Linked DNA regions of Homo sapiens: region 2 is linked to region 1. Evidence: fine-mapped expression QTL. A gene starts in region 1. The other region holds a variant in brackets. All regions are shown on one strand. Distances are between the middles of the regions.

Region 1 (5,379 bases):
TTTGGAATAAGATACAAATCAAAATCCTGTCTAAAAAATGATAAATGCAGACTGGAACTAAGTGAATGTTTAACACTTGTGTTTTGTATGCCTGAAGTATTTCACAATAAAATACATATCTATTTAGGCCGGGCGCAGTGGCTCATGCCTGTAATCCCAGCACTTTGGGAGGCCGAGGCGGGCAGATCGCGAGGTCAGGAGATCGAGACCATCCTGGCTAACACGGTGAAACCCCGTCTCTACTAAAAATACAAAAAATTAGCCTGTCGCGGTGGCGGGCACCTGTAGTCCCAGCTACTCGGGAGGCTGAGGCAGGAGAATGGTGTGAACTCAGGAGGCAGAGCTTGCAGTGAGCCGAGATCGTGTCATTGCACTCCAGCCTGGGCGACAGAGCGACACTCCGCCTCAAAAAAAAAATATATATATATATATAAAAAATTAATAAACAAACATATATATATTTTTTGAGTCAGGGTCTCTGTCATCCAGACTGAAGTACAGTGGAGCAATCACAGCTCACAGCAGCCTTGATCTCCCGGGCTCAAGCAGTCCTCCCTCTCGCCTCAGTCTTCCAAGTAGCTGGGACCTATGCCTGGCTAATTTTTTTTTTTTTTAATTTTTTGTGAAGACAAGGTCTCCTTATGTTGCCCAGGCTGGTCTCGAACTCCCGGGCTCAAGCAATGCTCCTGCCTGAGCCTCCCAAAGTGCTGGGATTACAGTGAGCCATCGCAAACAGCCAAATGAAATGTTGTTAATGATTATTACTGTTGCAAACCACTTGTCCTAAAAGCTTAATGTGTGTGATATTTAATACATGTTGATTAGATTATGTGCTAGTAAACACAAGTCTGTTTTTTTACAAGACTGGTTAGATATAGCCTTAGGCATCTTTCAATTGAATTCAACTACTGGTCCTTGCTGTAGGAGACAACTAAAAATAAAATAAAAAGTGAATCCAACTACTGAATATACTCTTCCACATAAAAAATGAGCCATTGGAAAAAAAATACAGAACAGTACCTGACCATTCCTAGTAAAAAGATTTTCAATACCCTTAACTGCCTATTACCAAATGAAGAATACTTCACTTGGGGGAGAGAGGGTGTTAAAAATGAAAATAATACTTCATGCGGTGGCGCGGGGGTGGTTGAAAAAAAGGTATCACCGTGCGCGGTGGCTCACGCCTGTAATCCCAACACTTTGGGAGGCTGAGGCGGGGGGATGACCAGAGATTGGGAGTTCGAGACCATCCTGACCAACATGATGAAACCCCGTCTCTACTAAAAATACAAAATTAGCCCCGCGTGGTGGCGCATGCCTGTAATCCCAGCTACTCGGGAGGCTGAGGCAGGAGAATGGCTTGAACCCAGGAGGCGGAGGTTGCGGTAAGCTGAGATCGCGCCATTGCACTCCAGCCTAGGCAACAAGAGGGAAACTCTGTCTCAAAAAAAAAAAAAAAGAAAGAAGGTATCTGAAGGGTGTGGCAACTCATCCAAGGTCACACTAGTCAGGGCAGAGAGCAACATTCTGCTTTATACTAAACCTCCAGAGGAAATCTTATAATTTCGCCAAAGAAGTTTTTGTTTTGTTTTACGCAACAACAACAAAAAAATAAAAGTAAGGAGGGAGGGCTCTCAGCTTAGTTCAAACTTCTAAACAGAGACAGTGAGATAGCTATTTTGAATAAACAAACACTTGTGCAGGGAGTGGCTAAGAGCTAACCAAAGCCAGCAGTCAACAGCATGTGAACAACTGGCCAGATCCGTCCGATTTTCAACGCTAGGTTAGAGCCTCCACTCAGAAAGTCGGTTATGAAGGCAAGAAATAGGATCTTTACAGAATGTTGGGAGGATAAATCAAAGGGGGAAAATGACTCCGTGTGAACTGTACTGCCTCCAAGGGCAAGAAGGCAGTTTTTTTCTGAAAAAATAGGTGTCAGAACAGCAGTGAATTAAGGTTAAGAAACAAGACTTCTAACAATCTCTGAGAAGAAACGACTAAGACTGGCAAAGCTAATCTTCCAGTGTTCTAAGTGAATCGCAGGAAAACCTTTCCCTCAACCAAAAAGAAGTCGCCGTTCCCCAGTTTAGCCCTAAAAATGGACCCGGGTTTTCCACGTGAAGCTGTCTGTGGGGAAGGACAGCGGCGTGGAGCCAGGGCCGAGCTCCTCCGCCTCCGGCACCCCACGCCGGAAGAAGCCTGCTCAGCGGCGGGGCCGCGCGGCCAGGTCCGGTCACGGTGAAGCGGACCCCTAAGCTCCGAGCACCTTCGGGCGAAGGAGCGCCGGTGTAGACACACACACTCAAACTCACGCGTCGTCGGAACCACTGGGGAGTCGGTGGCTCGATACGGTCTCTGGGCACTTTCCTACCCAGGTGAAAACCACCTCCTCACCCAGCTCAGCCTTCCCGGAACCCCACTCCCCTCACCTGGCCCTGGCCCCTGCCCCAGAAGAGATGAAAGAGGCGGCGGCGGCAGTTGCTTCCGACAGGGTCCCCCAGCGGCGGTGAGTGCTCCGACCCGCGGCCCTAATCTACCGCCGCCGCCATGTTGGAGGGTGAGGTCACCCCGGCGTGCCTTCGTCACGGCCGGCGTCGGGGCGGGACCTGAACTACCTGACATCCGGAACGGTATCCGGAGCGGAAGGACCGACCAACGGAGGCCCCGGAGGTCTCTCCGTCCAGATGTGACCTGAAGACCCAAACCCTCCTAGCCCGCCCAAATCTGATTGCGACGTTCGGAAGTTCCGTCTCTCAGATCATTTCCGGAGTCGAGGGGTTGGGATTCTGACCGGCTGGTCGCTGTGTTGGAGGAAGGGCAGGCGATTCCAGGGAAAGAAGCCTTGCTGCATGCACAGGCTATGTTCAGTTCCACAAACATGTATTGCGTTTCAAGTGTTTGCCAAGGGAGCAGGTCAAATAAGTATCTACACAGTCACGACAGCCTCGATGTTCGCCACTAGTTGGGGCAGATGGTCCTTGAAGGTTGGGAAGGAATTCCGGGGAGGGAATATAGCGGGGTGGTGTAGAGAGGTCCTCCTAGGCGAAGGGAACTGGCTGAGCAGAGGCGCCAGGGCATGAAGGAAGTCTTAACTAGTAACCCGCTTTTGTTAACAGTACCTGGAACACACAGCGCCTGGAACATACTTAACTTGTATTAATGGATGTTTGTTTACTTGAATCCGAGAGTTCTTTGGAGGAGTATCGGAAGGTATCTAGGAGAGAGGATACAGTGTGTTTTAGGGAGATCAAATTGCCCGTGGTGTGTGTACTGAATTGGAACAAGGAGGGCATTGACAATAAGGAGTTAGAAGACTGAGCCAGATCAGAAGTGATAAAATCCTGATGGGGAGTGACTGCCAGTGGATACAGAGTTTCTTTTTGGGGTGATGGTGGCACGACTCTTTGAAATACTGAAAACTACTGAATTGTACACTATAGGTGAATTCTATGTTATGAGATCTATATCTCAACAAGGCTATTCTAAAGGAAGTGATAAAAGAGTTGAACTGCTATTGTGGGGCTGGTGCCACAGGATGCTTTTTAAGCCCGAGTGACTGAGGAAAGGATGGTGCCATTAATAGGGACATAAAGTTTTGCAAAGGAAAGGCTTAGTGACCTTGGAAAACTAATAGTACAGGCCGGGTGTGGTGGATCACTCCTGTAATCCCAGCACTTTGAGAAGCCAAGGTGGGCGGATCACTTGAGGTCAGGAGTTTCAGACCTGCCTGGCCAACATGGTGAAACTCCCCATCTGTACTAAAAACACAAAAAATTAGCCAGGTATGGTGTCACGCGCCTGTAATCCCAGCTACTTGGGAGGCCGATGCAGGAGAATCGCTTGAGCCTGGGAGGCAAAGGTTGCAGTGAAATGGGTAACCAAAAATGAAGACTTTTTTTTTTTTTTTTTGAGGCAGAGTCTCACTCTGTCGCCCAGGCTGGAGTGCAGGGGCGCGATCTCAGCTCACTGCAACCTCTGCCTTTCGGGTTCAAGCGATTCTCCTGCCTCAGCCTCCCAAGTAGCTGGGATTACAGGCACCCACCACCATGCCCAGCTAATTTTTGTATTTTTAGTAGAGGCAGAGTTTCTCCACGTTGGTTAGGCTGGTCTTGAACTCCTGACTTCAGGTGATCCACTCGCCTTGGCCTCCCAAAGTGCTGGGATTACAGACGTGAGCCACCGTGCCTGGCTTTTTAAAAATTTTTAATAGAGACGGGGTCTCACCATGTTGGCCAGGCTAGTCTCCTACTCCTGACCTCAAGAGATCCGCCTGCCTCAGCCTCCCAAAGTGCTGGGATTACAGGGGTGCGCCACCGCGCCCGGCCCTAATTTTACTTTTAAGGTCTGTGCAGTTCACTGTATGTACACTTTACCTAAAAAAACTTTCAAAAATGTAACATGCAATAATTTATTTTGGGAGGTACTTATGTTACCAATTTGGTACATACTTAAGTTCATTTCTTTCACATTGCTCTCAGTCTTTTCCTTTATTTATTTATTTATTTTTTATTATTATTTTCTCGAGACAGAGTCTTGCTCTGTCACCCAGGCTGTAGTGCAATGGCGCGATCTCAGCTCACTGAACCTCACCTCCTGGGTTCAAGCGATTCTCCTGCTTCAGCCTCCTGAGTAGCTGGGATTACAGGCACCCACCACCACACCTGGCTAATATTTTTTTTTTGTATTCTTAGTAGAGATAGGGTTTCGCCATGTTGGCCAGGCTGGTCTCCAACTCTTGGCCTTGGGTGATCACCCCTCTCGGCCTCCCAAAGTGCTGGGATTACAGTCGTGAGCCACCATGCCTGGTCTTATTTATTTTTTTAGAGACAAGGTGTCGCTTCTGTTACCCAGCCTGGAGTGCAGTGGTACAATCATACCTCACTGCATCATGGACCTCCTGGGCTCACAATTGTTCCACCTCAGCCTCCCAAGTATCAAGGACCACAGGCTTGTGCCACCACATGTAGCTTTTTTTTTTTTTTTTCTTTTTTTTGAGACGGAGTCTCCCTCTGTTGCCTGGGCTGGAGTGCAGTGGCAGATCTTGGCTCACTGCAACCTCAGCCTCCTGGGCTCAAGTGATTCTCCTGCCTCAGCCTCCAAAGTAGCTGGGACTACAGGTGTGCACCACTATGCCTGGCTACATTTTGTATTTTTAGTAGAGACGGGGTTTCAGTGTGTTGGCCAGGCTGCTCTCGAACTCCTGACCCCAAGTGATCCACCCACCTCAGACTCCCAAAGTGGTGGGATTACAGGCGTGAGCCACCGCCCCAGGCCACACATGGCTACTTTTTAAAAGATGTTTTTGTAGGCCGGGCGTGGTGGTTCACGCCTATAATCCCAGCACTTTGGGAGGCCAAGGGGGACGGATCACGAGGTCAG
Region 2 (5,379 bases), 83 kb before region 1:
CAATTTCTTCACAAATAAAATGGGGATGACTGACTAGATAAGATTGTTTTTGTTGTATTTTTAGAGTTGGGGTCTCGCTCTGTCACACAGGCTGAAGTGCAGTGGCAGGATCACAGCTCACTGCAGCCTCAACCTTCTGGTCCCAAGGGATCCTCTAGCCTCAGCCTCCTGAGTAGCTGGGAATAACAGCATGGGCCACTGCACTCAGCTAAGTTTTTTTATTTTTTGTAGAGACGGGTCTCTCTATGTTGCCCAGGCTGGTCTCAAACTCCTGGCTTCAAGCAATTCTCCCACCTCAGTGTCCCAAAGTGCTGAGATTATAGGTGTGAGCCACCACACCTGGACTTGAGTTCATTTTTAAAATGAGGTATAGTTTGTTTTTTGTTTTTTTTTGTTTTTTTTTTGAGACGGAGTCTCACTCTGTCATCAGGCTGGAGTGCAGTGGTGCAATCTTGGCTCACTGCAACCTCCGTCTCCCAGGTTCAAGTGATTCTCCTGCCTCAGCCTCCCGAGTAGCTGGAACTACAGGTGCACGCCACCATGCCCAGCTAATACTTGTATTTTTAGTAGAGACGGGGTTTCACCATGTTGGCCAGGATGGTCTCAATCTCTTGACCTCGTGATCCACCTACCTCGGCCTCCCAAAGTGCTGGGATTACAGGCGTGAGACACCGCGCCCGGCCCGAGGTATAGTATTTATAGTGCTTAGATTAGTACTTTGTACATAGGAAGTAATCAGTAAGTTATGCTATTTCATAACTTGCTATTGTTTGTGTTGTCATTTTAATTGTTGTTTTTGGTGGTATGGTGGTAGGACAAAGAGCTATTCTAAAATACCAACTGGATGGGACAATAAGGAAGTGAAAACAAATGGAAACAATACCCTCCCTTGGCTAAAGAAGGTAATTTACAAACTTTTCCTTCCTCCTCCATCTCTTCTAAGCAGAGATAACACAAAACTGTAAAGTAAAATCTGTCTTTAAAAATTACAGTACTGCAGTATACAATTAGGAAAATTGGAGGGCCCATTGGCTTGGAAGAGAGGGCTTCTAGGCCTCCCAGCTTTTGAGGATGACAGCTTGCCCCAGCCTCAGGGTAAGGACCACTGGAATGGTCCAGAAGAGGATGCATTCAGGAGAGGGAGAAAGAGAGAGGGAGAGAGGGAGAGGGACAGATAGAGAGAGACACAGGGAGGGTTTGGTTCAGCTAAGTAAGCAAAGACATGGAGATCCTAACCGGAAGCTGTAATCAGGTCTCAAGCTTACACATTTTGCAAGGATTTTCATTAGCATCATTTTTAATACAGAAGGATTTCAAACAGTCTTCAATACCCTCAGGAAAGTTTAAAAATATATATGGTTCATCCAAACTATTTAACTACTATTAAAAAAGAAGTACATTTTTAAGTCCAATGTGGAAGGAAGCCCATATTGTACAATAACTCTACATAAAAAACTACAAAGTATTATTGAAAGAAATTAAAGATATCCTAAAGGGATATATATATCATGCTCATAGATTGGAAAACTATTGTAAAGATGTCAGCTATTCCCAGATTAACCCTTTGGTTCAATACAATCTCCAATATAAAATCCTACCAGGTTTTTTCTTATGGAAATTGACAACTAATTAATTCTAAAATCTATATAGCAATTTAAAAAGGCCAAGGAATTTAAGCTGATCTTGAAAAACAACAGTTTGAGAGCTGACACTACCAGGTATCTACTCAACCCATTACAAAGGCACACTGATTGTATAAGCATGGTAAGAGCTTAAAAATAGGCAATTAGACCTGGCTGGGCACAGTGGTTCATACCTGTAATCCCAGCACTTTGGGAAGCTGAGGCAGGAGGATCATTTGAGGCCAGGAGTTCAAGACAAGCTTGAGCAACATAGTAAGACATCATCTCTACATACACACACACACACACACACACACACACACACACACACACACCCCTGTAGTCTCATCTACTCAACTCAGGAGGCTGAAATGGGATGATCCCTTGAGCCCAGGAGTTTGAGTCTGCACTGAGCTATGATCGTGCCACTGTAGTCCAGCCTGGATGACAGAGCAAGATCTTGTCTCAATTCCAAAAAAAACAGAGGCAATTAGACCAATTAAATAAAATAGAATCCAGAACTAGATATATAAGGTCACATGATTTGTGGCAAAGATAACTCTGTGGGAAAATGGATGGTATGATCCTATTTACTAAATGCACATATATACATATCTACTTATTTGCATATATTTATACATAATAAAATGTTTATATAAGCAAAACACATGTTTAGAAAAACGTACACCAAACCATTATGAGTTATTTCTAAGGGGCAAGGTAACAAGAAAAGTGTGCATCATAAAAATTTCTTGGCCGGGCGCGGTGGCTCATGCCTGTAATCCCAGCACTTTGGGAGGCCGAGCAGGGCAGATCACGAGGTCAGGAGATCGAGACCATCCTGGCTAACACGGTGAAACCCCGTCTCTACTAAAAACATAAAAAATTAGCCGGGTGTGGTGGCTCACGCCTGTAATCCCAGCACTTTGGGAGGCTAAGGTGGGTGGATCACCTGAGGTCAGGAGTTTGAAACCAGCCTGGCCAACATGGCAAAACCCTGCCTCTACTAAAAAATACAAAAATTAGCCAGGCGTGGTGGCACATGCCTGTAATCCCAGCTCCTTGGGAGGCTGAGGCAGGAGAATTGCTTGAACCCAGGGAGCAGAGGTTGCAGTAAGCTGAGATCGCACCACTGCACTCCAGCCTGGGTGGCATTAAGACTTACGTCTCAAAAAAAAAAAAAAAAAATTTCTTATAAGTGTCATGACTTAAAAAAAAAAACTATTTCCATTTATTTAAAAGAATGTATTTTTTTAACCACGCTGAAGCCCTCTCCCAAGCCCTGGACTAAATGGAATAAAGCTTTTTGCAGCATAACAAAATTTTTTAAATTAAAAAATAACAAAAATTTAAAAACTAAAAGAATGTAAATATGAACAGGGCTCTGCTACTTCCTGGGAACATGAGATTAGTAGATACTCAACAATCCCCACAGGAACTGTGGAACAATTTGAATCAGGTGAAGAGGCTCCTGAATGTCTGAATTTCGCACATCTGAAATGCGGCGTGGGGCACGTGGAAATATATATATAT[T/A]TTTTTTTTTTGAGACGGAGTCTCGCCCTGTCCCCCAGGCTGGAGTACAGTGGCACGATCTCGGCTCACTGTAAGCTCCACCTCCCGGGTTCATGCCATTCTCCTGCCTCAGCCTCCCCCCGAGTAGCTGGGACTACAGGCGCCCGCCACCATGCCTGGCTAATTTTTTGTATTTTTAGTAGAGACAGGGTTTCTACTATGTTAGCCAGGATGGTCTCGATCTCCTGACCTCGTGATCCACCCGCCTCGGCCTCCTAAAGTTCTGGGAATACAGGCGTGAGCCACCGCGCCCGGCCTGTTATTATCAATTTTTAAAAACTTTTTATTCTTTTAGTATTGAGATTCATATTCATAAAATTCACATAACATAAAAATTCATAGCCAGGCACAGTGGCTCACACCTATAATCCCAACATTTTGGAAGGCAAAGGAGAGAGGATCACTTCAGCCCAGGAATTTGAAACCAACCTGGGCAACACAGTGAGATCCCGCCTCTAAAAAAAAAAAAAAAATTAAGGCCGGGCACGGTGGCTCACGCCTGTAATCCCAGCACTTTGGGAGGCGGAGGCAGGCTGATCGCCTGAGGTCAGGAGTTCGAGACCAGCCTGATCAACATGGAGAAACCCCATCTCTACTACATGTAAAAATACAAAAAAATTAGCCAGGCATGGTGGCACATGCCTGTAATCCCAGCTACTTGGAAGGCTGAGGCAGGAGAATCACTTGAACCTGGGAGGTGGAGGTTGTGGTGAGCCGAGATCGCGCCAGTGCACTCCGGCCTGGACAACAAGAGTGAAACTCCATCTCAAAAAAAGAAAAATTAAAAAATTTAAAAAATTAGCTGGTCTTGGTGATGTACACCTGTAGTCCCAGCTACTCAGCTACTCAGGAGGCTGAGGTGGGAGAATCACTTGAGCCTGGGAGGTCAAGGCTACAGTGAGCCATGATCGTGCCACTGCACTGCAGCCTGAATGACAGAACGAGACCCTGTCTCTAACGAAAGAAAGAAAGAAAGAAAGAAAGAAAATGAAACCCACCATTTCTAGGTGTACCATTCAGTGGTTTTTAGTATATTCATAGTGTTGTGCAACCACATTACAATTGCCAGAAAATTTCCATCATCCCAAAAAGACACCCTTTGGTAGTCACTCTCCATTCTCCCCCTTTTCATCCCCTGGCAATCACTAATCTACGTTCTATCTCTACGGATTGCCTATTCTGAGAAGTAGAAATGGAGTCATGCAATATAGCCTTCTGTATCTGGCTGCTTCCACTTAGCATAATGTTTTCAAGGCCCACCCATGTTGTAGCATGTATCCATACTTCATTCTTTTTTTTTTTTTTTTTTTTTTTGAGATGGAGTCTCACTCTTTCGCCAGGCTGGAGTGCAGTGGCGTGATCTCGGCTCACTGCAACCTCCGCCTCCCGGATTCCAGCGATTATCCTGCCTCAGCCTCCTGAGTAGCTGGGATTACAGGCGCCCACCACCACGCCCAGCTAATTTTTGTATTTTTAGTAGAGATGGGGTTTCACCAAGTTGGCCAGGATGGTCTCGATCTCTTGACCTCATGATCCACCTGCCTCGGCCGTACTTCATTCTTCTTTATGGCTGAGAATAATATTTCATTGTAGGTAGGCACGACATTTTACTTATTAATTAGCTGGTGAACATTTGGGTTGATTCTACTCTTTAGAATAGTGTTGTTATAAATGTCCATGTACTAGTTTTTGTTTGAATGTTTTTATTATTTTGAATACAGCAGGAGTAAAACTGCCAGATCATATGGTAATTTTACGTCAAATTATTCTCCAAAAAATTTAGAAAAATATTTCCAAATATTTTTGGAATTCCAAAACATTTCTGAAAATAATGATGTTGAACATCTTTTCATGTGCTAATTGGCCATTTGTACATTTTCTTTAGAATGACGTGTAATTCAAATCTTTTGCCCATTTTTAAATAGAGTTGTGTTTTTATGTTGGATTGTGAGAATTTTTTATTCTTTTTTTTTTTTTTTTTTTTTTTTGAGACAGAGCCTTGCTTTGTCTCCCAGGCTGGAGTGTAGTGGTGCCATCTCGCCTCACTGCAACCTTGGCCTCCTGGGTTCAGGCAATTCTTCTGCCTCAGCCTCCCAAGTAGCTGGGATTACAGGCATGCACCACTGTGCCTGGCTGTTGTATTTTTGTAGATACGGGGTTTCACCATGTTGCCCAGGCTAGTCTT

The links. PIP is the estimated chance that this variant, and not a neighbour inherited with it, causes the effect. A credible set is the group of variants that fine-mapping cannot tell apart.
Region 2: its variant is the best candidate, but not a certain one, in a credible set for the expression of BCL2L13 in whole blood (INTERVAL, PIP 0.72).

The regions. Positions count from the first base shown.
Region 1 is chr22:17,635,937-17,641,315 of GRCh38, reverse strand. It overlaps BCL2L13 (BCL2 like 13), which reads right to left and starts at 2,559. Exons shown (of 7, transcript NM_015367.4): 1 at 2,430-2,559. RefSeq lists enhancers at 1,677-2,549, 2,318-2,597, 2,718-2,897, 2,948-2,997, 2,550-3,421 and 1 more.
Region 2 is chr22:17,718,957-17,724,335 of GRCh38, reverse strand. All of the region lies in intron 6 of BCL2L13 (BCL2 like 13), which reads right to left. Among named protein-coding and RNA genes, the nearest start is that of MIR3198-1, 43 kb to the left of the region's middle. The variant T/A (reference allele first, on the strand shown) is at 3,156.